6 separate regions of the Homo sapiens genome follow, and all the other regions are linked to region 5. The links come from fine-mapping of genetic effects on gene expression. A gene starts in region 5. Each other region holds a variant in brackets. All regions are shown on one strand. Distances are between the middles of the regions.

Region 1 (5,104 bases), 100 kb before region 5:
CTCAATCCAATGAAATTTTAAAACATCTCAAAGTAAACAAAGCCAGAGAGTTCATCAGCTAATGCTGCGTCATAAGGTTATCTGCATATTAGGTGATCCCAGTGGCTACAGAACTGACTTTCAGAAACACTAGTGCTTTGAGAAAAAATGCGAACCATATTATGACTTATAAGATAAATACTGAATGTGTTCTGGGACCAATTTTCAATTTTAACTTTTTCTAATAACATTATCTCAAAGATTCTCATTTCCACTTCTCTATCACTTAGTAAACATTGTACTGTCTTCAATAGCAATCATTTTATGACTGAAAATTATGATTAAACATATTATCATTTTATAATTTAACAGTTACTAGCACCCTTTATATACATATATTTGTATACGTAAAGACGCTAGCAACTGTTATATATTTATACTTAAATATTTATTTTATATATTTAAATATATACTTACTTATATATTTATATATGTGTACGTACACAGATGCTTCTTGACTCACAGTGGAGTTATTTCCTGATAAACCTATCATAGTCAATAATATCGTAAATCAAAAATACATTTAATGCCCCAATAAACCTATTGTGAAGTCAAAAAATCATAAGTTGAACTGCCATAAATCAGGAACCATCTATGTATAACATACATATATATTATATATAACATATATATACACACACACATATTATATGTAACATATATATATATATATATATACACACACACACGCACATATCAAATCATATAAGCAGCTCCCATACTCATAATACAATGTGCCAGGCTCCCTTTTAAATACTTTATATATATAAATTAATTCTCTCAACAACGCTGTGTAATAGGTACTATTATTATCCCCTTTTTACTAAAGAAGAAACTGAGAAACAGAGAGGTTAAGTAACTTATCCAAAGTCATACCTGTTGTAGGTAGTGAGACTAGGATTTAAACCCAGGTGGTGCAGTATCAATACCCACACTCCTAACTATGTATAAAGGATATTTTAAGAGATTATAATTTCATTTGCAAATAAGGGAAGGACTTTAGTAAATAGTTAGTGACCAGCCAACAACAACAATAAAATGCTAACGTAAGGCATCATTCATTCTTAAATATCTGACCAGGAAATGACATGGTATGTGTTTGCCTGTAGGTATCCTTGTGTCCTTTTGTTTGTTGCATGTGAGATAATCCTAAAGGCAGGTTAGGCAGCACTTTTTAGAAGAAGATTAGTTATTTTTTAAGGAACATGTACTGTCTATCCATTTAGTTGAGAACTGGAAATTTTTTTTTACTTCCTAAAGGGATTTATAGACCCGAAGTATCTTTAGACATTCTCTTCACTTTGACATTTTTCATGTATTCAAATGTTTATATCTCTCAGGATTTAGTAGTCCCCCTACATTTCTTATAAATTCTTCCCTACTCTTAGTATGTGGATCAATCTTTTTCTCATTTTAGTTCCTATAGCACATATAGAATGTACCATTCATTGGCAAGTAAATGTTTCTTGTCCTACGAAATCTTCTTCTGTCTCATTTTTAAATCTCATTTCATAGTTTGAATTCTTATCTCTTTAGCTTGACTGAAAACTCGGGGCTTCTACTTTTTTCCATAATGCGTAGAATATTATAAAATAAATATTTGTTGATACGATTTTCATTAAATGAACTTGGACAAGCTGTTTATTTAGCAAGTGCGGAATTCATGCCACAAGGAGACTAAGTTAATTATCTATGATTGCACCAATATTTTTTAAATGATCAAAGATTACATTTCCTCACTCTTGATATAATTCCTATCTGCTTATAGATCATGCTACTTCTGCATTTGCAAAATAATTATCAGTATCTCAGTCTTTTCTTCACTCTGTACTACAAAAAAAGAAAATATATTATAAATCCAGTTAATAAACATTAAATGAAAACAACAATGATTGAACTTAGCACGGAAATCTGGTGAAACCTACAAATGCCACTTCTATGTCACTATTTCATAGAATCATACTAAACAATTTTGCCTATTCTTTTTCTTGGGATGTTTTAATAGCCACTCATGAAGTTGGATGTATTAGTCAGGGTTCCCTAGAAGGACAGAACTAACAGGAGACATATCTGTTTATTTATAGATATAGATTATAGTTATTTTTATTTATAGATATAGATATCCTATTTTATATATATATATATATCCTGATAGAGTTTATTAAGTATTAACTTACATCATCAGAAGATCCCACAATAGGCCGTCTGCAAGCTTGAGGAGGAAGGAGAGCCAGTCCAAGTCTCAAAACTAAAGAACTTGAAATCCAATGTTTGAGGGCAGGAAGCATCCAGCACGGGAGAAAGATGTAGGCTGGGAGGCTAGGACAATCTCGCCTTTTCAAGTTTTTCTGCCTGCTTTATATTCACTAGCAGCTGATTAGATTGTGTCCGCCAGATTAAGGGTGGGTCCGTCTTCTCCAGCCCACTGACTCAAATGTCGATCTCTTTTGGCAACACCCTCACAGACACACCCAGGATCAATACTTTGCGTCCTTCAATCCAATCAAGTAGACAGTTTAACCATCGCAGTGGGCAACTAACAGTTATATAACATTCTCCTCCATTATGGTAAAATTTCTAAATGAGAAGTCACGCCTTCCTCCTTCACTAGCACATGGGAGCCTGGTGCCTAATCTAAAGGTGTAAATAAATATTTATTAATATCAAGTGCAAAATGAATGAATAAAGACCATTTACATTGAGAACTTCTTCATGTATTATTTTTAGTTCCTACAGAAATGCTCTGGGATGGTTGCTGTTCCCATAAAAAGAAACAAACTGAGAGAGGTTAGCTGAGCTGCCCCTGGTTACAGAACCACTAGAATTGAAGTCTGTTTGCATTCTACAAGCTAACCTCACCTAGCGAATAATAGCTCCGAGCAGCCCTCCGTCTTGGCTTTTCCAGTTTGTATTTGAGTCCTTCTGCAACCACCAA[C/T]TATTTTTTCTTTAAACTTCACAGGTGTCAAGAGCTCACATTTTGTATTATTTTAGGTAGTTGTGAAAGGATGTATTTTGTTACAAAAATTTAGTTGAATCTGTAAATATTCTGGACGAAATTCTTACAGTACAAAGATCCCTAACCTGAGAGTGTAGTCCTATCTGACACTGCTACTATTTAGTCATAAGTCAAGCTTTATATTGAAAATTAGGAAAAGAGAGCCAGGATTGTGTACTTTTGTAAAGAATTAAAAGATATTTAATAAATACTTGACAGATAAATGAATTGATAAATTATACTGAGGTTCTGGCCTTGAAACTATTTGACTTATGAGATGACTTATTACTGGGTCAATAACTAGTGAACTACCTAACGTAAAAGATGGTTATTTTATTTTTTACTTTATTAGAATACTTGTACTATATATTCAAATTCTGAGCAGGAATGTTAAACATTTCTCCATTTATCAGGTCTAAAACTTACAGCTAAATGAACTGAAAGAAGTATTTCAAAATCACACTTAGGAATAATGATTCCTGAAAGCTAAATCAAAAAGGATTCACTATAATGAAACAAAATAAGTAAAAATTGTTCTTAGGACATTAAATCTAATTTTTCTTTCTTTTAAACTACATTATTAATTTGTGTAAGTTTGGGACATTAAATTGAAAATATACTGTATATACTAAATTAGACATACTAAATATGCTAAATTGAAGATATACTAAAAATAAAGGACATTAGGTTTAGGACATTAAATTTAAAATATTTTAAAATAAATATACTAAAATATACTAAATTGAAGATATATTAAAAATAAAAGGTACCTAAAATTGTGTAAAATGGTGGTTTCATTTATGTCAGAGCATTTGAATGTGAAATTTTGTTCTATTTGATGTTACATTATTCCTTCTCATTCTTATTTTATATCCAACAGCCTAACCTTCAGTACCAAATGACCCTCAGGCAAGAAAGATGGCACAGCAAAGTAATTTGTAAAGTAAAACTAACTTTTAGTGAATTCTTTAAGGAATTCACTGCTTCTTAACATTTAAAATTAACCTTTTCATGTCACACATTATTAAAAGCAAATCCAATTAAATTACATAGCTTCTGTAAAGTAATTTCCCCTTGGACCTAGGTGCCATTTCTACCTCTCCAGGGAAAATGATATTTTTAAAAATTAAAATTAATACCAAACTTGAGAAATTATCATTTTAAACCTGTGTAATGCAAATATATATTTTGTATTTGAAACTATAACTTTCTTACACATCCATAATTTAAACAGCTCCCTTTAATCAAAAATACCTAAGAACATGACCTAATTCCCCCATACAACCAAGACATGGATAACCATCAATGTAGAGAGTATCTAAAGAAATCTTATAATTACACTCTTATTTTTTAATATTTAATTTCTCTTTTCTTTTGGAGTCATTTTTTTAAACAAGAGAAAGTAGGTAAAATAAGATGATGAATAAAATGAAGAGATGGTAGCAATAAAGTAATGAAGGAATTAATGTATTTTAAGCCATATGAAAGGCATGATTTTCTTTAAGTGTTTAATATAGAGTTAGTAGGAAGATTAGTGGTTGCAGGGTTACAAAGAAAAGAGGGATGAATAGTTAGAGCATAGTGGATTTTTAGGAGAGTGAAACTATTCTGTATACTACTATAGTAATGGATATATATTATCTACATTTGTCCACATCCACAGAATGTACAAAACCAAGAGTGAACACTAATGTAAACTATGGACTTCGGGTGAAAGTGATGTGTCAATGCAGGTTCATCGATTGTAACATATGTACCACTCTGGTGCTGGATGTTGATAGTGAGGAGAATGTGCATGTGTGGGGGCAGGGGCTATGAGAACTCTCAGTAATGTCTGCTCAATTTTGCTATGATCCTAAAACTTCTCTAACAGAGAAAGTATTTTTTTAATATTAAAAACAAAGCAATGAATCCTAAGAGATAACGTTGGTCCACAGACACTTTCCCCTTACTCCCTTTTCTGGGTCCTGAGTAGGAGATTATCCTGAGATACAAAGGATCTCATATTCCATACTTGAGATCCAGAGCAATGCTTACTTTGCAACAGTCATGCATCCTTCTAAATAGCCT
Region 2 (5,104 bases), 61 kb before region 5:
TAAAAGTAAGCCTCTTTCTCACAACACCTTTTCTGAAAGAGAGAAGATGTGAAACTTGTCTTCAAATAATTAAAGGGCCATAAGATTCAGAAACATCAGGCCTGCTATTTTTAAGAGACACATATATAACAAGTAACAGAAAGGATAGAGGAAAATGCTTATGAACTGGAAATGGATGGAAATGTAACACAAGCTACTTTTACATTTACAAGTTACATTCCCCTCTGCTGTCCTTCATCTCATTTTCCCACTGGCTTTTCTAACTCATGCCATGGTAAAAAACATGTGTCACATATCAACCTATTCACAAAATAATCTCTCTGCTCTTTAGTTCTAACCACAGTTTCCCTGAAGCCTCTGCAGTGGAGGCTGCTGATTCTTTCAAGTTTCATGAGCCCTGGTTTAAGTTCTCGTTTTCTGTGGCAAATGCTGTTTCCTGCCTTATTCCACCAGTCAAATATAAAAATCTGCTCTTCTTAGATTCAGACTAGACAGCTATGTCAACTTTTGTACTCTGTTATTTTTTAGTGATTGCCCTGCATTTACTAAATGCCCTGCATTACTAAATAGAATGAAACTGGTTCATTCTATTAAGTTGGAAAACTTCAGAGTCATACTATATTGAGAGTTTTTCTCTTATCAGTTGAGGTGTACAGCTTCTAAGGTGAACTCATGATCCCCATTTTCTGGCATTCACATCTTTGTGTAATCCACCCCCCGCCCCAACTTTAATCACAGGGCGAGCCTGTAACTTACTTCTAACCAACAGATTATGGCAAAGATGATGGGATGGCACCCTAGCATATGTCTCCTTGCTGGTTTGATGAAGTAAGAAACCATGTTGGGAAAGCTCATATGGCAAAGAACTTCAGGTGACCTCTGGGAACTGCGAATAGCTTCTAAATGATGAGAATTGACTGTAGGAGCTCAAGGCAGTTTCAGCTCACAACCAACAAGAGGCCAGAGCCCTCAATCCTACAACTGCAAGGAAATTCTTCCAGTAATCCGAGTGAGCTTGGAAATAGATTCCTCAACAGTCAAATCTCAAATGAGAACACACTCCAGCCAACACATTAATTGCAGCACTGTAAGACCCTAAGAAGAGAATCCAGCTAGGCAGTAACTGGACTCATGACTCACAGAAACTGTGAGATAATTAATATCGTCTTAAGCCACTGAATTTGTGATTTGTAACACAGCAATAGATCACTAATGCAATAATTTCCCTTTGCATTTCTTTCACAACTACCCACTCTTACAGCTTTACCCTCCATCTTGTCATGCCCTGCAAACTAAAATGTCTGAAAATTTTAGCTAACATTCTCTATAAACATATTTCCTATTTATTCTTTGACTTCCAAGTTGAAGACTTCCAGTAACTTGGTCTTCCTCAGATATCAATCCCTCTTTTAAAAATAAACAAACAAACAAACAAAAACTTTCACAAGTTTCTGTCTTCATTCTCCATGCATCTTGGACCTGGCTGATCATCTGAATTTTCATTTGATTTGTACCATTGCTTCTCTTATACAATTATCCTTTCCTGTCCTTTCCAAACCAAATCACAAAAATGATAATAGTTGCATTATCAACACCGATCTCTGCATACATGAGCACTATTCAAGGAAGCCACACATTCATATTGACACCTTTACAACTTTAGTATGCAAGAAATTGCTTCTTAATCCCAAACTCTAATTCTGAAATCTTAGCCCCAGACACTTACAACATCCTTAATAGTTTTACTTTAATTGCTCATCTTGCTCTTTGTAAAACAAATGTATTTTTGTAAGAAATATGTAGATTATCCTGATTGCTTCAAATATAGTTTTCTGAGGGATGTTTAAAAAGATATGAATATGCTATTTTGAATTACCCTATTTGGACCTTGTTTTCACTAGTAACCCTGTTTATATTTGATATACAAATTAGCATTCATAGTCTTTATAAAGCCTCATTCGCGATATATTTAAATGCCCTGGAGTTCTTGTTTCTATGATACTTTCACCTTTAACAATGTTTTCCATAAGTTATTCATAAGTATTATTACTCAAAAGAAGATGTTGAATTTAAGACAACAAGTTTGATGCAAAAATGTGAAGACCTATTAGAAGAAGATATTATATATTCAACTTACTATATGTTGTACTATCCAGTTTATTTTTTCCCAAAGAGTATTGTTCAACCAATGTGGAGAAGGATTGATGTGAAAAGGGCAACGATTACTGAAAAGTACTATTTGTTTTGAGTTAGAGAAAAGGCATTAGGTAATAAAAAATCTTTTGAAACTGAATAAAATACTTTTAAGAAAGATATCCTCATAAGATACTTGAAAAGAAGAAGTGATTAGTCATGGTTTTTCAGAGGCATTCAGTGAGTGCGGTCAGTGGGTGAGGAAATTGAACTCTCAGTCTGACTTCTGGACCACTCTTTGACATTTGGCCTATCCTTGCTTAGCTGTACTTTACCCTAAAGAAATAATAATTATATGTGCCCCCACAATATTTTCCAAAATGCTTAACATCCTAAAACAAAGGATTCTAAACAAAAAAGCAACTTGATTATAAATATGGACAGTACTATAAATATCAGAGTTGAATATTTTCTGTCTCCAAGAACAGCTTTATTTAGAAAGTCATTATCTACAGATGGCCAAGAATAAATCTTATTAAGATGTGCATGTTTGACAGCATTAACACCCATCAGAATCCAGAGTATTGCATTCCACTGAAGTGAGAGAATTGATATAGTACTTGTTGCCTATGTTAACAAACAATTCATTGAATAATTAATTAAATGG[T/C]TGAGAACATTTTTAACTCGTTAGAGTTTAACTTCCAATGGAACATAATGATCAGTGATATTATTATCATTGATCTGAGCAGTTTAACCCTAAAGCACAAAGATTTTGACCTCCAACTTTCATCTTCTCTCTCCAGTATATCTAAGGCATTTCAGCAACTTGTCAGCAGTCAGTATCACTTTTCTTTTTCTACTTTGAGGGTGGCAACTTTAATTAAGTAGTTTCTCCTCCTACTTTCAGATGCTCTCTGTACAGTAATATTTTACTTGTGATTTTCTCAGCCCTCCTACTCATTCCATTAAAGAGTAAGCCAGGAGCATACTTTCTCTGACTCAAGTTTTTAGTTTCTCCTTTGTTTCTCTTGACAGATAAAGTTCCCTTATTATATGTAACACCTATGGTAATTGCCATTGCTCAAAAAAAAAAAAATCTGTAAACTCTTTTCTAAATGTTATGAAGACATGCAGAAAGAAAAGTTCTTCACAAAATACAGATATTACTTCTATTTTTTTTTCCAGCATTCTCTGAGGGGAAAAAAATGTAGAAAGCTTTTCACCCTGATGTCTCATTAATTCTGACAACACCCTTAGAGGCAGAGAAGTGGCGAGAGCCATTATTCTTGTTACAGTGGAGAAAACGCTGAAAAACCCAAAGAGGCTAGAGATCTTGTTGAAGGTGACACACAGTTATTGGGAACCTGCAGGGAAAAAAATATACACACAAACTTTAGGCTTCTGACTCCCAGGTATTTCAGTCCGCTCTTGAGTCTGCACATAGGTATCTCTTTATAAAGTCTCCTTTAATTTGAAATGGTACAAGTAATTAATTGTGTGGCAAAAACATGTGGAGTGACTCAAAACCTAGAAAAATCCCAAACAACACCAGACAAACCCCTGCATGTCCAAACCTGCCAGTATGAAATATCACATTTCTAAGCAAATATTCAAGGCATCTTAATGTAATGGGATGCCAAATACTAAGCACTGGGTTGCTAAGAATTTCTCCCCTCCTCCTGGTGTGCTATCATTCATTCGGAGGCTGGAAACCTGAAAGCTACATTTCCCCAGACTCCTTTGCAGTTGGTGTTCTAAGTGCAAACTAGGTGCTGACAATAAGGTGTACTTATGCAAAATTTGGAAGACAGAAGTGAGGAGGAGACCATCTCTAGGTTTCATAGTTTGCCGTTCCTAGCAAACATGGTGATGGACATGTTTAGTGCTTTGCCAGTCCAGCTGTACATTGAGGTGTCCAGCGCCAAGCTTCCTATCCTAGCAGCAGCAGTAGTTGTCACTTTCCAGCCCATAGATCACAGCTAAATGTTTCTGTGTCCTGCTTATGGGACATAAATGGTGCAACTAGGATAATCACAGACTTCAGAAAGGCTCAGAGTTAGGATACAGCTGCCTTTGCCCTTTATTCACTTTCTAGTTATTAGCAACTTAATTTCCCTGGTTAGGGAAAGAGAGCTTAGCTTTCTTCTCTGTAAAATAAGAATACCACTACTTACTTTGGAGGGTTAGGGTGAATCTACCTGGAAGCATCAAGCATAGTACCTTAGCTCATTCTATCTTTACCGTCCTATCTTTGCCAAAAGCCCCAAAAAAGCAGAAATGTTATCTGTTTGGTTCACCACTCCATATATGATAGGTACTCAATAAATATCTGTTTAATAAATAAATACTCCCATCAGATGTGGATGTAGGGGAGAGGTCATGTTTAAACATGGCTCACTGGAATCTGTCCATCTTGTTACTGCGTTTGTGAGTTTGTGAAGGGGATAATTTAGAGACTGACAGATGCTTCAGTGAAGTACACTATATTTATTCCCTATCTGGCAAATATTTAGTTCTTAGTACATGGCATCTTCTCATCATCTATAGCATCACTACCATAATCATCATCAATGGAGTGCTTTTTCCATTTTTTTAAATGGTGTTTCCCCGCACCCAATGCTCCAAATTTCTAATAACCACGTGAAGAGGTGTGTGGGTTTTTTTTTTTGTTTGCTTGCTTGTTTTATCTTCTAGGATTACAAATTATTCACCTAACTCTCAAATCTTGTCATGCTTAAGCCCTAGAGCTAATTTTTCCTGAGCCTGTCCTGCCCTAGTTAGGTCTAGAATATACATTAAATTTACTTTACTGAAAACCACAAAATAGCTCAGAACATATTAGAAATATGAGGACTATATTACAGGATTATAAGTTATCTCAAAGAACAAGGCTGCTGAATGCAACACAGCTTCTAGAAGGACTAAAATCCATGAATGTAAAGCCAACAGGGATCATGAGAGTTTTATCTCT
Region 3 (5,104 bases), 47 kb before region 5:
TCACAAGAAACTAGGAAGCAGAAGGTGTGAAAGGGAAGCTCAGAGAATTCTGTCATCATGAATACAGACTACTCTGCCATGGGATGATTTTCTAAATCAGATGGGTTTCTGAAGTTGGCAGAATGTTACCTAATCTTTAGTGAAACCACCTAAAGAGCTATGTTTGAGATGTTCCCTATTTTCAAGAACTTTGATATTCTTGTCATCTTATATCCAAAAGAAGTATAAAAGGAAATATAATGAATTGGTTCTTCAAAGAGACATTTTTAGATTTTATATAATAGAATAGGTAGAATAAAAAAGCATTTAAGGAGAAGTCCTGATTATATAACACTAAGTTGCTTTGCCAGCTATCTCCCTGAAATGCATTTTTCTAACACATTTGTTCCAAAACACTTTCCACACAATAAGTATTCATTTCAACCAATGTGGCGATGACTCTGTGGTTTATGTATGATGTAAGCATTCCAGAGTCCTTTCCAAAGTACTAATTTGACTCATAAAAACATTTTATTTTAAGTAGTTTTCAAAGAATAAAGGTTTGATTCTTGATTTTTGCTTCTAACAACTAGCATGTTTAAAATGTGTTCAAAACGCAACAATCAAATATTTTAACCTCTGAGGTTTTTTCTTCTTGCAAATTTCTTACTTAATTCAGATCACAAATAATAACATAATAAAGAAGTGTGTTAAAATATTGACCAAGGCAAAAGAGCCATCTTTTGTTAGACGAGGATAAAGAATTAAGCAATACTTTTTAAAGCTAATAAATAGTGCTTTTTATCTCTCAATTTTAAAAAGTATCCAGTTAAATGGCTTTGTTATTTAAATTAAGAAAAATGATGGCACACAAAAAGGGAAAAATGTCTTTAGTCGACAAAATGTTGGCTCATTTTGTTCATCAAGTTATTCCTTTCATGGCAATGAACAAAGGGAAATTTGGATTATTGAAGTGAGGGTTTTAAACAAACACACAGTGGAAAATGGGAGGATAAGGAATTTCTGACTCTCAATATTTGCTAACTTAAAATTTTAAATATAGGAAAACACTTCAACAATACTGACAGAGTTACCATCAACCGTGTATAATTTCTGCAAAATCATTCACCATCAAAATGCAATGCTTCTCCTAATGCTAGTATTCATTTCCAGAATGCAATTTGATTCAGAATATAATAATGCAAGAAAATAAATGATGAAGAAAGATACACACACACACACACACAAACACGCATACACACACACACACTCACACACACATACTCCTAAGGAGTGCAGTTCCTTGAAACAAGATTCCTGACAGTCAATACATTTCACATTATCCAATATCTCATAAATCTTCATCCAACTAATTCCTTCAATACTGAGAAGTAAAAAAATATATAGTAAAAAATGTTTGCACATTGTTGCAAATCATACTAAACATTTGCCAAAAAAAATCTGTAGGTCGGGAACTGCTGTTAATATCAAGATAATCACTACTAATGAGGTGATTATTCAGTGCCATTATAATGAGAACTGCTGTAATTTGGATATTATGCTTACCATTTCTCAAAACTATCAAAAGGTTTTCTGTTATGTATTACTCTAAAGGCAGAAAAGATCTTTTCTTTTTTCTCAAAAAAGAGTCACAAAGAATTATGTAAAAAAAATTTTTTAAAGGAATAAATTAGAATGTATTTTTAAACTTGGAATCTGTAACAATTATACCTAACAGTAGTAATTCGGACACTATGCTCTGAGTTCTGATTCATGTAATAATTTATTCTGACATATAATAGTTTTTCCTAAATTCACCCACCTTAAGACCTTTTTTCAAAGCACTTGAGTGAAAAAATATATATTCCCTGGAATGTTATGCTTCTTGGTGGCTTTCATAACTACTACTCTCTTTTCAAGGGAAACACGGGGAAAAATTGCATCTGCAAATTTGGTGTGGCAGATGAGACACTTTTGTGCCCAGGAAATGCCTCACTAAGATTATGCTAGTTTGGGGAATGGCCAAGTTTCTGATGGGGTGATGAGCATGGTGTACTTCCCCTAGGCGGGTACTCTGGTGATGTGACATTTCGCCATCAGCCCCACTTCAGAGCATGACCCGGAATGGAGAAAACTAGGGCTGTCCAGGCTTACAGTAAGCAGCATTCCTGTCTTTCAGCAGCAAGCTTTCTTCCTTCACTCTAACGCCTTTTTCTATTGCCCTTTTAAAGGGCAACACAGGAGGCAAAATGTTGCCATCATTGTTAGCTGGTAGCTATGAGAAAAGTTTTTTTTTAGTTTTTTTTTTTCTTTGAGAAGGGGTTTTTTTGTTTTTTTTTTTT[G/TTG]TTTTTTTTTTTTTGCTCTTTTGATTGGAGTTATTTAGGTCACGTCTAAATTGGATAATGGAAGCCAACATTTTGGTGATAAACTGTGGAGATACATATATATATATACATACACACATATAATTTTAAAAAAATTTTTTTACACAACCATCCTTAGAAAAACAGTTTAGTGAAGGCAAAAATTTTATCTCTACCTTTTTAGGGTTTTCAGCTGGGCCTGAGAATTAATTGACATAAGATAGATAACAGGAGAAAAGTATACACATTTACTGAGTATAAATTTTAGTTTTACATGACATGGAAGCCATCATGTGGAAATAAAGACCCAAAGAAGGAGTTAGAGTTGAATGCTTCTATATTGAATTGGACACTGAGTAGTAAATTACGAAAATGTGACAAGATGAAGGACTTGGGCTAGGGTAGTTAATGGTGAAAAGGGAACTAGGAAGATAAGGGTTAGTTTAACAAGGTTTGTTTGTACAGATTTTTCTCAACTCTGAGTCCCCATCTCTGCTAATGAGAATGTTATTTTCTTTCTAGAATGATGAGAATATCTTCTATATGGGAGTTCTGTCTCCTGCTTTTAGGGAAAAAAAAGGGGAGGTCAGAGTGACCTTCTTGTACTTGCTGTTTTTTAGGTGCCTTTAGCTCAAAATAATCCTCACGCCAAAGTGGCTTATTTTGGAGTGGCATATTATTACACACTTAAAAAAATCAATTTCATTTTATTTCCCTATATTTCAAAATCAAACAGATACTAGATGCACATATATATGAATACTGGTAAAATTATAAATGCAAGTAATATATTCAACTTAGACTATCACTTTAAATTGGCCTTTGGTTTAAGAAATAATTCAGATACATATAGTTCATTTAGTTTTTTAGCCATGTCCTTTTAAATTTGAAGTACTTTATGCTTTCTTCAAAATTAATAAATCCTATGAAAAAAGACAGAAGACCTTAAAGTCTCAGATAAATTTTAACTTAGAAATTTATGTATATGTGTCCAATTTCTTACATGATGAAATGAAATAAATGTGGAAGATATAATCATTAATGGCACATGTATGGCAGAACATAGAATCATTACAGTAAGAAATAATTTGCTATCTAAACTCTAAAACATATGTAGTCAGAGTTGAAATTTGCAATCCAGACATCACAAATAGTCTACAATTATCATTTTTAGCATCCTTGTATTTTTAGCTTTGGGTAAACTATAAACACATTTCAACTTCATGTTGCACTGCATGACAGTGGGCACATAAAGACATGATAACTTGCTGAACTCCTTCCTCAGAGAATATACTCCTATTCATGGCCCCTTTTTCTAGGTACCGTCCCATCCAACTATTCCTGGGCATCTCATACAGCCTTATTTCTGTCACTTACTCCACCACCCAGATCTCAGCTTTTATTCCAGTGTTGGACTCTGACTGAAGGGCATCCAGTCTATTGGCTGAGTGACACCAATCAGATTATCTCACAAGAATTTAAATGAGAGACAGAAATTGTGATTTGTCCGCAGAGCAGCCAATATCCTAAACCAAAGGAACAATTCCATCAACTTCCTTGCTGCAATCCTGGCTTCCAGCACATTTGTAGTAAGTTTCTGCTAGTTAATTTACTTTAACATGCTTTTAGTTAGAGATTTTTTAAAAAAATGAACATTGCATGTATCAAAGCTTATATTATACAAATTGCATGCAATAGTAGTCCTGAGTTTGCTACAGGGGAAAAATGGGTAACCTAAAATGATGCATCTCACTGAATATGCTATAACATGAGGGGAAAAGTTAGATACCAGAAATATTCACCAAATTTGAAAATGTGAAGATTTAGAGACTTAAATCAAAGAGAGGTAGAATCTAATTCTTATCCATAATGATAAATTAAGCTAGTAAAGAGTAGAAAAGCTGGTAAGGATGATGTAAATTTCCTCAAAAACCTTCTAGGGGGGGAAATACAAAAGAATACATTTTTTCACTTGTAAATATGTTGTATTGAGATTGAGTTAACAATTTTTGGGATCCTGCTCTGAAGTGAGTGCTTTTAGAGGTAAAAGTTTTAAAGAGAACAAAATTAAAGCTTAAAGAAGTGTGGTGACTTTCTCATCATCTCAAAGCTAGTAAGAATAGAACTGAGATTCATTTTCTATTTCCTGACTTCAGGTCCAATATTTCAATGTTCTTTCTATTTTTCTTACAGTGATCTAGAAAGCTGTGAGGCAGTGACAGACTATGTAATTTTTTTCCTTTTTGGTAGTAAAAACCTATTATCAGCTGTCACATAGCTTTATAGAGCAGATGAAAACATTTCTTTAAATGAGCCTAATACCCTTGTTTTATACTGAGAAAAATTAGATTTACAGATGTCAATTGATCTGTCCCTGTGGACACAGTTAGACAATGGTCAAGATTACAGGCCAAGTGTCAGACTTGTAGTCCACTACCTCCCATTCATCTAATTAACACAATACTAGTTATTGATGTTGACATGGACTTTTAATTCTTTTAAGACAGTGTGGATATAGGTGTCATACATCTGATTGATCACTTACTCTAATGCATTAGGTATAATCACAGTAAATAAAACATATAGAAGATACACACTCCCTTCTTAATTATGTCACACATAAAAGAAATATTGACATTTGACAATAAAATGCAAATGAATTGACTGGCTCCTTTATTCTGTGCTTAACTAGACTTAAGATAGCTGCAACAGAGCAGGTTTTCATTGCTGCCATCTCAGACCCTATATCAGGAACAGAGTTGGGT
Region 4 (5,104 bases), 310 kb after region 5:
AGTTAGGATAAAAGCAAGTTCCTCCTGTGACTGCAACGTCTTACTGATTGGGACAGTTGCCAGGAGGATACCAACTTGATAGCAGAGGGGGTTTTATGCAAACGCACTCACCTCCGCCTTGGGGAATGAAAGGGTCACTTCTGCATCATCACTAGCTAGTTTTCTAGTGTTAGAGAGGCTTACAAATGTTTGCCATTCTCATAAGTGTTTTGAACTTGATCTTTGTGACTTGTGCTTTTTTAGCTTCTCTCTTGAATCAGAGTATCATTGTCTTCCTCCAAGGAGTTAGAATTTCCCAGTTTAAAACAAAAAGGGAAATGTCCTAGGTTTTCTTTGTGCTTCTCATTTTTCCTTTGTTGATTCAATTCCTGTGATTTTTGTTCTCTTCCCTGAAGTGCTTTACAGTGCATGGAATCTCCATCATTGTTATTTTAACGATAGTAATTCACAGTCCTCAGAAGCCTATTTTTAAAGCAGAAGCAAAAAAGAAAAACAAAATAACAAAAACAACCCTTCCTCTTTTCTCTCATCTCACCTCTCTGTGTTGATTACTAATCATCTTAGATATTATTGCTAGTGGATGTATGGTAGATGGGTTGAAGCTTTTCTGATAATTATTACACAATTTAAAACAACATATATATTTAAAATAAATATATACAGTAAATATATTGAGCCATGTTAACCTGCCAATGAGATCTGTGAAAAAATAATGGCCTCATTTTTCTCTTTTTAATTTCTTTTACCCTTTTGTGAAGCAGCTATACGTGGCATACATGTATTTAAAGAAAAAAAAATAGATGTAGAGTGTTTTTTTTACACTTTTAACTTAGCATGTGGTGTTGAAGTATTACTGTAGATCAAGTTTGTCTTCCGCACTAAGATGTGAGGAAATTGTGATTTGTTCTCTCCACCACAAATGAATTACACATTTATTATCTTCTATCATTTTGAAACACTGCAGTTTACCATGGGACACTGTATATATTTCTTGCCATAATGGTAAAGGACTGATTGATATATTTAAGAGTTAATAAATTTGTGATTTCTGCTGACAGTGCGTCCATCTTTATTTCTTCAGAAGAGGTACTGTATGTATGCCTGCATAGTGCTGGCCAGTGTCAAGGGCAGTGTGTCCTACTCTGGTCTCATTTAGTACATAACAATTTGCACTTGGTGAGAATGGCAAGTTAATTGTTCTCTGTGAGCAAAACAATGGTCTCTTCTGGGAAAATGTTGCTGAGAACAATATAGTTAACAACTAAGACTCCTAAAAGCTTCTCTAAACTGTACCCTCCAATCCAGCCTTCACATGGCTGCTTTTTTTTTTTTTTTTTAATACGAACCTGTCCTTGTAACACTTTGATGTTATCATTTCTGGGATACAGGCAAGCACCCCAGCTCCTGCTACTCCCCAGCTTGAACTTGAGCATACATGGATGCTCAGCTTCTTTTGATTTGCTAAAAACATCACACTTGCTCACATGCCTGTTTATGCTGTTCATGTTGTTTATGTTTCTTACCTAGAATAAATAGTCTCTTCCCCTACTTCTTTTCCCGACTTCTTACTTTTTCCTAAGATTCAGTGTACAGCATCATGCTCCACAGCAAACCTTCCTAGGCCCTATTCTGGGCTTGCCTTCCCTCTCAAAACCTACATAATAGATTGTATTTACCTCTCCTGTCAACCACATTGTTTTGAAAATATATTTCTATTTGTGTCTCCTCTACTGCAGTATAATGTCTCCATGGGCAAGAACTGTGTATTCATCATTGCATTCCTAAACCCAAACCAAGGCCAGGAATGGAGATATCATTGATAAATAGTTGTTGAATTGAGGCCAAGCCCTTTTGATAACAGAAGCCTCAAGGGGTACCCAGATAGTCCTTGTTTTAATGATGGGTTCTCTCACCACTGTCTTGATGCTCTGAGCAAGTTACCTCTTCCCTCTGACCCTCAGTTTCCATATTTGTAAAATGAGAATAAACATACCAACTTAATAAAGATATTGTGAGGATTAATGGGTACAGAGTGACTAGAATGATATTTGATAGAAATTAAATGGTAGCAGTATAACTATTCTGATCACTGACATTAATATTCCTATTGTTATTATTCTTTGCTCACGAGGGTATACAACTCTTGTTTTGCTGTTGGGCTGCCCTCTTTATGTAGGTTTACTGTTAATGCTGAGGATATACTCGGACTCAAATGTCTCAGCAGAAGGCTGAGAGACACCAAATGAAGTGGTCATCTAGCTGAATGTAGGAAAAATGAAATGTAGTAGCAAATCAGTATATTCTAAGGAAATTTTCAAGGAATATTAATCTTCACCCAAATTTTGAATTTTTATGTAAAAAATTATAATTTAAGGGTAAACATAGATGACACAGCTTTCGAGTGATTTCATTGAATAAAATTCTACTGACTTCTATGAACCTTTCATGGCTCTGTGGTCTTTTTATCAGATTTTTTAAAGGTGAGAATGTACAAAAAGATTACAATGAAGATCAGCGTACTAGACCATGTGTCCATGAACTGAACAACAGCTGTCATAAACCACCCTAACCTGAGAAAGCAGCAGGAAGCATTTACAGCATTCCTGCTTTTCTCTCAGACAAAACCAATTCTCAGAAGAGAGCTAGAATGTTCTCCTGCAGACTGGAGTAGGAAAAGTTGATAACAGATTAAGCAGTAATTGTACTCCAGAAGGATTTGCATTTAGGCTTTTGCTGCTTTACAACAGAAAAAAAAAATTCTTGTTTGTCCGTAAAAAGTGTTTTTATGTTTTTTTAAATGTCACCAACATTTAAAAATTGGATATGTCATGTAAAAGTCAAGATTTCTGGCTTA[ATTAAT/T]TTGAAAAAGTGTAAGGTCTGCCCCACTGGTTCTGTGTTCACTACAGCAGCAGTCAGAGAAGCTGCTGCCTGTTTCAGAAGGGAGCAGGCACTCCCCTATCCCCACCAGGCACACACATACTTCACATCTGCCCCATGAGTTTGCTGCTGGCTCCTGTGGACACTGAAGACTTTGATCTCTTTCTTTTTTTCTTTTCTTTTTTTTTTTTTTTTTTTTTTGACAGTCTCACTCTGTCACCAGGCTGGAGTGCAGTGGCACGAACTTGGCTCAGTGCAGCCTCATCCCGGGTTCAAGCCTCATGCCTCAGCCTCCTGAGTAGCTGGGATTACAGGTGCATGCCACCACACCCAGCTAATTTTTGTATTTTTATTAGAGACATGGCCAGGCTGGTCTCGAACTCCTGAGCTCAAGTGATCCACCTGCTTGACCTCCCAAGTGCTGGGATTACAGGCGTGAGCCATTGCGCCCAGCCAGCTTTGACCCCTTTCTTAAAGCCAAAGGGCACCTCTGTTGGCACCTCAGGCCCCAGTGAACAGGTATGGGCATTGGTTTGTAGAGGGATTGTTCTCAGCATCCCTAAAACCATGCTACTTAGGCAGCTGTCTTCTGCTGGGCCCCTGCTACTAAAATGCTTGTCATTATTTTTACTTTGTTTTAAGAAGAAAATCAAGGTCTACAAAAAAAAAAAAAAAGCACAAAGTGTTTCTATGGTACTATTTAATTTCTTAAAGGAAGATCTGCAGCTATTTTACAGTAAAATGAGTTTATTTTGTCCTAGTTTCAAAGTCTTCAATGGCCAAGAACTGTTGGGTAATTTTTATTGCTGAGTCTCTAGGCAGGACCAGGACAAATTGTGAAATACTTATACAAATTATAGTAACTTTCTATCTATAACCAGATGTTTAGAAACTGCTTTGGGATATAATGGTTTGCACTATGGCCTAACTCAATTGCTAGCACATAATGTAGTCTGGGCTTAATCTAAGTTAGCTCTTTACAAGGCTAGTAGAACCTAACTCACTTGCTCCTTGGACTTTCTCACACTCTTGGAAACTCACAACCATGGATACATCCTCTTATCTGCTTGGGCCATGCTCATAATCCTAAGGCTGAATGTAGCTGGAAAAACGTGCACCTATGCTGACAGGTCTTGTTATATATTCATGGCCATTGACCTGCCTCAGGTAAGCCCCAGAGGCTGCCCAAAAATCATATGTCCCTAATCCATTCTCTCTTCCAGTCTTCTGTCAACTATTTCAGACTTCATTTACTTTTCCCACCTCCAATATTTCTTCCCCTATTCTCACTCAGGTGAGGACCTTGCTGCTTATTTCACTGCAAGAAATGAAGTAATCTCTGCATCTCTGTGTATGCACCCTGCTATCTCTTTTATTACTGTTTGTAAATAGGTCATGCACCTAACAAAGGCCACCACCTCTGCTCACAAGTATTGCTCTAGCAACTCTCTTCACCTTGCCTTGTCATTATAAATAATTTCCTCCATACTAGTTGTATCCACCAGTGCCCCATTTCTTTATAGCCAGATTCCTTGAGAGCCTTGCCTAAACTGCTGTCTGAAATTTCTCTCCTCCCATTCTCTCTTAAACCCACTCCAGTTACCTTTACCACTCCACAGAACAGTTCTCTAAGTCACCAATGACTACCATGTTGTTAAATCAAGGATCCATTTTCTGTCCTCATTTTTACTTCATCTCTCAGCAGCATTTGACAGAGTTGTTCATTGTCTCAATCTTTAAACATTCTTCTTTTGTCATTCAAACAATACATTTGCCTGATTTTCCTCCCAGCTTTATAGATGCTCCTTCCCAGTCTCTGACTGGTCCTTTTTCATCAACCTGACTTTTACATTTGGAAGACTTTTTGTTTTCATTATTTTTTTTTCTGTCTGTTTTTGAGACAAGGTCTTGCTGTGTTGCTTAGGCTAGCCTTGAACTGGGCTCCAGTGACCTTTCTACCTCAGCTTCCTGAGTAGCTGGGACTATAGCACATGCCACCATGCCCAGCTTGACTTTTAAATTTGGAACTCATCTTCATTCTCTCCCAGGGTAATTGCATCTAATCTCAATGGCTTCAAATTATATTAATGATTCTTAAACATATCTCTCCAGCTTAGATCACTCCCCTAAACTCCAAACATATATATTCAGCTGCCTATTGGAAATCTACATTATACATCTACTAGGCATGCCAAATTAACATGTCATAAACTGAACACCTGATAGT
Region 5 (5,104 bases):
CTTTTTAGAATTTATCTCTATTTTGTAGCTATTCCTGAAATGATGTTGAAGTAGAACAACAACAACAAAGTCTTTGATCTGACTATTTTTTTTTTTTCAGACAGAGTTTTGCTCTTGTTGCCCAGGCTGGAGTGCAGTGGCGCGAATTCGGGTCACTGCAACCTCCCTCCTTCTCCCAGGTTCAAGCGATTCTCCTGCCTCACCCTCCAAAGTGGCTGGGATTACAAGCATATGCCACCATGCCCGACTAATCTTGTATTTTTATTAGAGACGGGGTTTTGCCATGTTGGCCAGGATGGTTTCGAACCCCTGACCTCAGATGATCCACCCGCCTCGGCCTCCCAAAGTGCTGAGATTACAGGCGTGAGCCACTGCGCCCGGCTAATCTGACTACTTTTTAAGGAGGTTCAAACTTCAGAAATAACTGTAAATATTTGTTCAAATAAGAGAAATATTTAGTCTAAAATATAAATCAAAGAAAGGGTACGTACAGATTAAGCAGTGTTTGCTGTAAAAAATGTACACATTTATTGTCTAATAATACATCAGTATTAAAACTCAGTTATGTTTCCTTTATTGTACTCCACAATTATAACCATTTACAATTATTGGTAGTTTAAATAACTGAGATAAATACTGTAATTATGTAGACTTCATTACTTGAATATTTAAGAAACAATTTTCTTCCCAGATGTAAATTTTTATATTACCTTTATTGTTTTAATTTTACTTTTTCTGTTTCATTCTTAGATTCAGGGAAAAATATTAAATTATTTCATTATCACCTTGGAGCCACATTGCTAAATAGTTCAGATATTACAAATCTTTAGCCAAGACCAAATTGTGTTTTTTTTTTCAATTTATAGCCCAATTATTAATATTTAGAGACCATGTTTCTTTTATGCAGTTCTTGGTATCATCTTTTTCTATAGCACTACATTTTACACAGTTATTTCTTGCCTTTTACGGCTGGGAATCAAAACACATACGAACTTCAATTTTGTTGTAATAAACGTTAAAATTTGTGAACATTTTTAGTACTTCAGTAAAAAGCTCACTCATTGGCAGAAGCGTTCCCCAGATCAGGAAAAAAGGAATTAGGATTATCTATGACCACAAAGTAACATTAATTAATAGCAGTCTTTGGGAGCAAGCAGCAGCGCCTTTAAATCTTAGATTCTCTTGTGTCTGCAAATTATCTTTTATCTTTCAGCTGTGAAATTTTGTCTATGAAGTAATACCACGAGCAAATTAGCAATAGGATTGCAAGGTTTTTATAGTCCCGTGCTGTAGAACAATTGGCAGTAATTTGAAAAAGACCGTCCATAACGCTGTTTTTGGTCTGCGGCTAAATTTGCAATTGCATAGTTTCATTAAGGAGAACTGGAAAGAGGGCCCAGAAGTTGTTCTAGCAATCGGCAGCAGTTTATCTATTTTAAATCGTAATGCATACTTTTTTTTTCCTCCTACTGAAAACAATGGCAGATATGCTAAAGGGAAGGACACATTCTTGAACTGCTAAATGGTTTTTCCAGATAGCCATTTACGGAGTGCACTCAATTGCCACTATCTGGCTGAAAGCAAAAGCACACACGACGGCCCCTTTTCTTTTTTCCCTTTGCAAAGCGAAACAGTCTAGACGTGTTCACGTGATGTGAATGACGTCAGCCCCCGCCGGGTCGCGTGACCGACACCCAGCCTTCCTACTACCTCCCCCTGACCGCCAGAGTGGGAAATATCGCGAGAATTCGCCTTACTATCAGAACTTACTGAGGTTGCAGGGGAGTTACTCAGAAGGGAAGGGAAGGTGTGGTTGTGCGGCGGAGTTTTTGCTTTCATTCTTTTAACGTTCACAGCCAAAGCAAAGGCCTTTGGGGATTGCCAGAGTCTCAGCCACCATCCTGGAAAACAGCGGGGGAGGTGGGCCTGGAGGTGGCAAGTGTAATGTGGCTCAGGGGCCGTCATTGCCCCTTGCAGAAGGGGCTGCGGGGGAGGGAGAAAACCTGCGCCCGGTTCTGGGGAGCTGGCGACGCAGTGAACCCTGCTGAGGCTGGGTTTTGCCCCGACAGTCGCTGGTGGCTGTGGGAAGGGTTGGGACCCTTCTCTGAGAGCAGTGAACAGCCCACATCCGGCCCCTGCTGTGTCAACTCTGAGCGGCGTGGAGATGAAGTGGTTGCTCTCCCTTGCTCGGCCCACCGGGTGTCGTGGCCCGGGAACCGGCCTGGAGAAGTCCCTGCTGCCCGGCGCCCAAAACAGGGGCGTGGGCTTCCGCGACCCAGGGCGGCTGCCCCGGGCCATCCTCGAGTTGCCCTGCATCTTCCCGCTCAGTCAGCCCCAGATTGAGGCAGCCTTCTCTGTGCGGGTTTAAATGGGTAACTGTGACTTCTCGCCTCATTCACCCAAACCTCCAGTCTTCTCCCCCGCACATCCTCCTCCACCCACCTGGTTTCTCCCTAGACTGGTGTGCTCGTGTGTGCAACCAAAGGAGGGAGTGCGAGAGATCCACGAAGGGACAGGCTTGGAGTCGCTAGAGGGAGGTGTGGGACCAGCGAGGAGGGGGCTTCGCCAGGGAGGGGGTGCTGGCAGGCGGAGGGAGCGGCGGGAGGAGGCGCCGGAGGAGGAGACGGAGGCCTGGGGACGGCAGAAGAGGCTTCGCCTGAGCCGAGCGCTCTTTCTCTCGCCGCGCCGTCTTGAAGCCGCGCGGGCTCGTGAGCAGCGCGAGGCCGCCAAGGTGCCTCGCTTCGCCGGAGCCGCTGCCGCCCGCCGGAGGGAAGCCGGCCTCGGGCGCGCACGCTCGTCGGAGCCCCGGCGCGCCCCGCGCCTGAGCCTGCTGACAGCGGCCGCTGGGCTCAGGCTGTCCGCTCTGGGCTCCGCGGCCTCGGCCCCGCTGCACTCCACCTCCGCCCCCTCGGACTCCCTCCCCTCTGCTTCTACTCCTCCTGCTCCAGTGCGGATCGTTTCGCAACTGCTTGCCACTCGTCCCGTGCCTGGCTGTTTTTCCATTTCCCGGCCCCCTCTTCTTGAGTACTTTACCCCCTGCATTTGGGGACAGGGACTGGAAAAGGGGCGGGTGGAGCGTCCAGTGGAGAAGAAGGAAGCGAGGCCCGCAGGAGGAGGAGGATCGGCGGACTGTGGGGAGGAGACCCCACGCCACCCTTTCTGGTCATCTCCCCTCCCGCCCCGCCCCTGCGCACACTCCCTCGCGGGCGAGCTACTTTCGGACCAGGAAAGTAAGAGCGGCCCTGGGTGACAGCGCCGCGGGGCCAGTCCCGGGGTTAGCCGCGCGTCTGCTCGCTTCTGGTCCGTCGCGCTCCCAGCCAGGGCACAGCCCGGACCGAGGATGGCTTCGACCACAACCTGCACCAGGTTCACGGACGAGTATCAGCTTTTCGAGGAGCTTGGAAAGTAAGCACCTTTGCCCGGCATCCGCATATCCCCTTTCCAGCTGAGGGCGGGTCGCGTTGCCCCCGACCCACCGGCCTCCGTCTTGGGGCGAGGGAGTTTGGGAGAGGAATGGGAGGAGGGCCCCTGGTTTGTCAGCTCTGGGGAAGGTGCTGTCTTAATAAAGGGAGGGAGCACAGAAGGGGTAGGACCCTTACTCCAACTGTGGCTCATTTTGATGGTCCCTAGCCCACCTTCTCCCGGTCCCCCACCCTCCTGCACTGAGAGACTTAGTGAATTTACGATCTCTGCAGTTGTAGCTATCATCCTGAGAAGTGTGCGCGCGCGCCTGTGTGTAATGTGTGTTTGGAGAGGAAATTAGAACCCATGTAAAATGCAACATAGATCATGTTTTCTGTAAATAGAGATGCCTCCTGGTTAGCCGGCGTGTCGGCCGTATGACCCAGGTACTGATGAGAACTCACAGCCTCAGACGGTGCCATATTTATTGATGCCGAAAGTTCAACTTGGCATAGAGTCTATTTCGCATCCAGTAGTTGTTCTGTCCAGGAAAAGGGCCACCCAACAGAACCCAACCCCTTGCCCTATATCCAGTGTTGTTCTTTGCACCAGATTACCGCTCACCATCATTCTTCCTAGGATTTACGTGTGCATCTTTGCGTTCTCTGGGAGGATTTATTTATACAGGCAACGGAAAAGCCCTCTGGAGACTGAGAGCGCTCTTAAGCGTAGCCTAGCATTGTGTAAAACCACCTCCTTCACCCGACTGGCAGAACTACTTGGAGATGTTAGGGAAGGAGGCAGGAGACCTACTGAGGACTTATGCAAAGGGACCTAGGGGCCAAGCCGTGAATGCTGATTTTTGTAGCATGGAACCCAAACCCAATTCCTCTTTCACTAGTTTCGACTGTTACTTTTATGAAAGGAGTGCGTTTATATGTATGTTGTTGGTTTATACTGTAATTAAAGGAAAGGTAAATATTTTTAAAAGTAATAAAAATTACATATGTATATATTGTCTGGTGTTAAAACATGGAGAATATGTCGGAAGAGCAGCTTAATTCAAATCTCTCCCCTCCCCCAGTCCAAAACAAGGCATAGAGAAATCACCATACCAGGATTTGTTAAACCACACTAATGTGCTCAAGATTTATATTTTAATGAAAATAATCGTCATGTTTACTTACTTGGAACCACATTAATTTTTTGTTTCCTACCAAAATAAGTAGGCAGCAGATTTTTTTGCTGCTCCTCGTCTGCTCTGTTCTGTGCAGGGTTTTTCTCAGAGCATTTGGTGCTGTGAGTGTGAACTGTAAAATGTTTTCAAATTTCTTGTGCAAACAAGAGCGGTCATAATTGGCAGTTCCTTTCATTTTGTTGATTAATAATGTGTGCTCCCAGTTAAATAAAATTTACTTTTATTCTTCAACATTAAAGAAAGTCTGGGTTTCCAGGAAGAATTGTTCATTTACTGGATATTACTGTACTTCACTGGCAATCCACTAAAATCAATAAAAATGCTCAGATTTTATAAATTTTTAATGAAATATTATATCTGTTATATTAATGACCTGCTAATTATTGGTTTCCAGGGGGGCATTCTCAGTGGTGAGAAGATGTATGAAAATTCCTACTGGACAAGAATATGCTGCCAAAATTATCAACACCAAAAAGCTTTCTGCTAGGGGTGGGTATTTTCAAC
Region 6 (5,104 bases), 340 kb after region 5:
AATTGTTATGTTCTTTTGATGAGTTGAGCCCTTGTCATAATGAAACAATCTTTTTAAATCCATCCTAATATTTTTGGTTCTGAAATCTACATTGTCTGATATTAATATAAGAAATCTAACTTTTAAATATTATTAGCATCATGTGTTTTCATTATTTTACTCTATTTGTATGTTTATATTTAAAGTAAATTTTTTATAGACAGCTTATTGTTGGGTTGCTTTTTTATACAATCTCTGCCTTTTGGTTGGAGGTAGTTAGGCCATTTACATTTAATGTAATCATCAACATAACTGAGTTTAAATGAACAATTTTGCTATTAGTTTTCTAGTTGTTTCTTCTGTTTTTTGTTCCCTTCCTTTTCTTGACTTCTTTTGGATTATTATTTTTTAAGAATCCATCATATCTTCTTAGTGGGTTTATTTACTATAACTTTTTATTTGTTTTTTAAGTAGTTACTTTAGGACTTATAGTATATATCTTTAACAGTTACTTTAGAATTTATAGTATATATCTTTTTAGTATATGTCTTTATAGTATTTAGCATATATCTCTAGTATATATCTTTAGATATATATCTATATCTTAGATTTATAGTATATATCTTTAGCTTATCATAGTCTACCTCCTAGTAATATTATACCACTTCAGGTACAGTAAACTTTCTTTCACCACTGCCCCCACAGCCACCATCCATCAGCCTTTGTGCTATTGCTGTTATACATTTTATTTCACTAATCCCTATGAATTCCATTATATACTATTACTAAACAACATATTTTAAACAGCCAATGATTTTTTAAAGAGACTCAAAATAAGAAAAAGTGTATTTCATTTTTACCCTCTTATTTACCATTTCTAGTGTTGTTCTTCTTTTTTTTTTTTCCAGGGGAAAGCACAAACAAAATCCCCCACTACCACAAATTATGCAGTTGAGTTTCCCACATTTGGTGAAATCACAGGTGTCAGCACATCCAGAGTGCAATGGATAAGACTTGCCATGGGAAAACCATCTATGTGATCATGGTATCTCCCCTGCCAGGTAAGTATAGTATTCTTCAGTTCTTTGCTGATTGAATGTCTTCTGGCATGGATTATTTCTGAATCTGCTGTCATTTTTTCTTCATTCCTGTATATATAATGTATTTTTCCCACTCCTTTGGATGCTTTTAATGTTTTCTCTTTATCATTTTTTTGTTTTTGTTTTGGGTTTTCGTTTTTGGTTTTTTCTTTTTTTGAGACAGGGTCCTGCTATGTTGCTCAGGCTAGAGTGAGTGGCTATGCACAGGGGTGATTCCATTACTGATGAGAACAGCAGATTTGATCATCTCCATTTTTGACCTGGGCCAGTTCACTCCTCCTTAGCAACCTGGTGGTCCCCTGCTCCTGGGAGGTCACCATACTGATACTGAAGTTAGTGTGGACACTTGATTGGCATAGTGCACTACAGCCCAGAACTCCTGGGAACAAGCAATCTTCCCACCTCAAACTCCTGAGTACCTGGGACTACAGGTACATGCCCTCAGGCCTGGCTTGGTTCTTAATAACTTGATTATGATGCATGTTCATGTATTTCTCTGTTTCTTGTGCTTGGAGTTCATGAGTCACTGAATTTGTGGGTTATATTTCTCAACAAATTTGAAAAATTTTTGGCAATAATTTCTTCAAATATTTTTAAACTTTCTCCTATTTATACCTTGTATAGGGATTCTAATTACATGTTTATTAGGCCGTTTAAATCGCTCACAACACACTGATGTACTGCTCAATACTTTTTCAGTTTTTTCTCCGGGCTTTATTTTGTATAGTTTCAATAAGTTCACTTATTGTTTTTTCTGTAGTGTCTAATGTGTTTTTAATCCCATCCCGTATATTTTCACCCCAGACATTGTAGTTTTCATATATAAAATTCTTTCCAAAGTAAAAAGGTTTTCTAAAAAGTTATTGTCAGAGAGGGGCTATGAGAGTTTTTTATATCAATTGATAATCTTTTTTTCTTTTTTTGAGACAGGTTCTCACTCTGTCTTTCAGGCTGGAGTGCAGTGGTACAAACATAGCTCACTGCAGTCTTGACCTCCTGAGCTCAAGCAATCCTCCCACCTCAGCCTCCCAAGTAGCTGGAACTCCAGGCACATGCCACCACACCTAGCTGATTAATTTTTTTTGTAGAGATACAGTCTTACTTTGTTGCCCAGGCTGAAATAGATAATCTTTATCACTGATAAAGATACAGATCCCTGTTCTAGTTATATGTTTATGTATGAAGTTATCAGTGAATGCCATAATTAGTGAGATGGTATACCTGAAATCCACATTTCATAGCATAGCTACTAAAAATTGAAGCCAAGTGACAAATCAAGGTAATATTTGACAGTTAAAAGCCTTTATCAGAAAAAACACTCAATGGTGTGGCAGTACAGTTTATAAATATTGACACAGTTCAGATATGAAGCCACTGCCCATCAAATTATAAGATTCTTATATCCTGCAACTACATTCAAAAAGCCTTTCTAAACAGAGGCCTCAGTAAATGCAGTTCACTTCTACTTACAGCATTGAAGCCTTCCTATTTTTCCTTGCTCTATCAGCTGTCCAGCCTGAGATCTTAAAAATCTTTTTCATGATTTTTAATTGAGTCTGAAACAGACCCTGCTTTATCACCTAATGATAAGAGAGAGAGAGAGAGAGGAAGGAAGGAGAGGGGGAGAAAAAGAAGAAGGAGGAGGGAAGAAATAGAAAGAGAGAGGGCAGACAGGCATTTATTTTTTTTCAGGTTCAGTAGACATTACTTGATTATCTTAAATGCCACCTTCAAACCATACAATAAAGCAAATGTGAGAGAGATCATGGCGGATGGGAGGCAGAAGTAGATTGCGCTCCCGCTTGGATGGACAGAGCACCATGTGGAGGTTCACATCGTGAACTTTTGCTCCAGAACAACTGCAGAAACAAATCAGGAAAGCCAAGAGAACCCATAGACTCTCTGAAGGAAGCAGATTGCTCCTGCAGGACCCAGAATACACCCTAAATATTGTGCTGGTATCCGCAGTTTAGAGACCCATAGACAGTTCACAACA[C/T]AGAACTCTGTACAGACAAACCCCAGTACCAGCCTGGAGCCTGCTGAACTGCTGGGTGGCTGGATCCAGAAGAGAAATAACAGTCACTATAGCTCGGCTCTCAGGAAGTCACATCCCTAGGAAAAGGGGGAGAGTACTACATCAAGGGAACATCCCATGGGACAAAAGAATCTGAACAACAGGACTTGAGCCCTAGACCTTCCCTCTGACAGAGCCTACCCAAATGAGAATAAACCAAAAAACCAACTCTGGTAATATGACAGAAGTCTCTTTAACACTCCCAAAAAATCACACTAGTTCACGAGCAATGGATCCAAACCAAGAAGAAATCCCTGCTATACTTGGAAAAGAATTCAGGAGGTTAGTTATTAAGCTAATCAGGGAGGCACCAGCAGAAGGCGAAGCCCAATTTAAGGAAGTCAAAAAAATGATACAAGAAACGAGGGAGAAATTTTCAATGAAATAGATAGCATAAATAAAAAACAATCAAAACTTCAGGAAACAATGGACATGCTTATAGAAATGCAAAATGCCCTGGAAAGTCTCAGCAATGGAATCGAACAAACAGTAGGAAGAACTTTGGAGCTCAAAGACCAGGTTTTCAAATTAACCCAATCCAACAATTACATGGAAAAAAGAATAAGAAAATATGAGCAAACCCTACAAGAAGTCTGGGATTATGTTACATGGCCAAACCTCAGAATAATCAGCATTCCTGAGAAAGAAGAAAAATCTGTAAGTTTGGAAAACATATTTGGGGGAATAATCGAGGAAAGTTTCCCCCGCGTTGCTAGAGACCTAGACATCCAAATACAAGAAGCTCAAAGAACATCTGGGAAATTCAACGCAAAAAGAACATCACCTAGGTACAACAACAACAACAAAACCACAGACCAATATCCTTTATGAACATAGATGCAAAAGATGCAAAAATCCTTAACAAAATACTAGCTAACTGAATCCAACAACATATCATAAAAATAATCCACCATGATCAAGTGGGTTTCATACCAGGGATGCAAGGATGGCTTAACATATGCAAGTCAATAAATGTGATACACCATGTAAACAGAATTAAAAACAAAAATCACATGATCATCTCAATAAATGCAGAAAAAGCATTTGACAAAATCCAGCATCCCTTTATGATTAAAATTCTCATCAAAATCAGCATACAGGGGACATACCTCAATGTAATAAAAGCCATCTATGAAACACCCACAGCCAACATAATACTGAATGAGGAAAAGTTGAAAGCATTCCCTTTGAGAACTGGAACAAGACAAGGATGCCCACTCTTACCACTTCTCTTCAATATAGTATTGGAAGTTCTAGTCAGAGCAATAGGACGAGAGAAAGAAATAAAGGGCATCCGAATTGGTAAAAAGGAAGTCAAACTGTGACTGTTTGCCAGTGATATGACTGTTTACCTAGAAAACCCTAAATACTCCTTCAGAAAACTCCTAGAACTGATAAAGAATTCAGCAAAATTTTGGGATACAAAATTAATGTACACAAATCAGTAACTCTTCTACACACCAACAGCAACAAAGCTGAGAAACAAATCAAGAACTCAACCCCTTACACAATAGCTGCAAAAAAAATAAAATACTTAGGAATGTACCTAACCAAGGAAGTGAAAGACCTCTACAAGAAAAACTACAGAACTGTGCTGAAAGAAATCATAGACAATACCAACAAATGAAAACACAGCCCATGCTCATGGATTGGTAAAATTAATATTGTGAAAATGACCATACTGCCAAAAGCAATCTACAAATTCAATGCAATTCCCACCAAAATACCACCATCATTCTTCGCAGAATTAGAAAAAACAATCCTAAAATTTATATGGAACCAAAAAAGAGCACACATAGCAAAAACAAAACTAAGCAAAAAGAATAAATCTGGAGGCATCACATTACCTGATTTCAAACTATACTATAAGGCCATAGTCACCAAAACAGTATGGTACTAGTATAAAAATAGGCACATAGACCAATGGAACAGATTAGAAAACCCAGAAATA

Direction of the effects. Alleles are on the strand shown, and positions count from the first base shown. SD is a standard deviation of normalised expression in the study named. Not every link is listed here.
As copies of T replace C in region 6, the expression in fibroblasts of the gene that starts at base 2,671 in region 5 goes down (small effect, 0.11 SD a copy in GTEx).

The links. PIP is the estimated chance that this variant, and not a neighbour inherited with it, causes the effect. A credible set is the group of variants that fine-mapping cannot tell apart.
Region 1: its variant is the best candidate, but not a certain one, in a credible set for the expression of CAMK2D in whole blood (INTERVAL, PIP 0.58).
Region 2: its variant is the best candidate, but not a certain one, in a credible set for the expression of CAMK2D in whole blood (INTERVAL, PIP 0.76).
Region 3: its variant is the best candidate, but not a certain one, in a credible set for the expression of CAMK2D in whole blood (INTERVAL, PIP 0.70).
Region 4: its variant is the best candidate, but not a certain one, in a credible set for the expression of CAMK2D in whole blood (INTERVAL, PIP 0.84).
Region 6: its variant is the best candidate, but not a certain one, in a credible set for the expression of CAMK2D in fibroblasts (GTEx, PIP 0.89).

What each region holds. Positions count from the first base shown.
Region 1 is chr4:113,860,070-113,865,173 of GRCh38, reverse strand. No RefSeq gene overlaps it. Among named protein-coding and RNA genes, the nearest start is that of CAMK2D, 100 kb to the right of the region's middle. The variant C/T (reference allele first, on the strand shown) is at 2,975.
Region 2 is chr4:113,820,690-113,825,793 of GRCh38, reverse strand. No RefSeq gene overlaps it. Among named protein-coding and RNA genes, the nearest start is that of CAMK2D, 62 kb to the right of the region's middle. The variant T/C (reference allele first, on the strand shown) is at 2,801.
Region 3 is chr4:113,806,430-113,811,533 of GRCh38, reverse strand. No RefSeq gene overlaps it. Among named protein-coding and RNA genes, the nearest start is that of CAMK2D, 47 kb to the right of the region's middle. The variant G/TTG (reference allele first, on the strand shown) is at 2,322.
Region 4 is chr4:113,448,367-113,453,470 of GRCh38, reverse strand. CAMK2D (calcium/calmodulin dependent protein kinase II delta) reads left to right here. Exons shown (of 21, transcript NM_001321571.2): 21 at 1-2,439. Among named protein-coding and RNA genes, the nearest start is that of MIR8082, 300 kb to the right of the region's middle. RefSeq lists an enhancer at 635-1,182. The variant ATTAAT/T (reference allele first, on the strand shown) is at 2,855.
Region 5 is chr4:113,759,305-113,764,408 of GRCh38, reverse strand. CAMK2D (calcium/calmodulin dependent protein kinase II delta) reads left to right here and starts at 2,671. Exons shown (of 21, transcript NM_001321571.2): 1 at 2,671-3,405; 2 at 4,995-5,089. The coding sequence starts at 3,341. RefSeq lists enhancers at 1,404-1,942, 1,943-2,481 and a silencer at 2,475-2,884.
Region 6 is chr4:113,416,267-113,421,370 of GRCh38, reverse strand. LOC105377374 (a long non-coding RNA gene) reads left to right here. Exons shown (of 5, transcript NR_199847.1): 2 at 888-1,040. It also overlaps the pseudogene RN7SL184P and the pseudogene RNU1-138P. Among named protein-coding and RNA genes, the nearest start is that of MIR8082, 270 kb to the right of the region's middle. The variant C/T (reference allele first, on the strand shown) is at 3,076.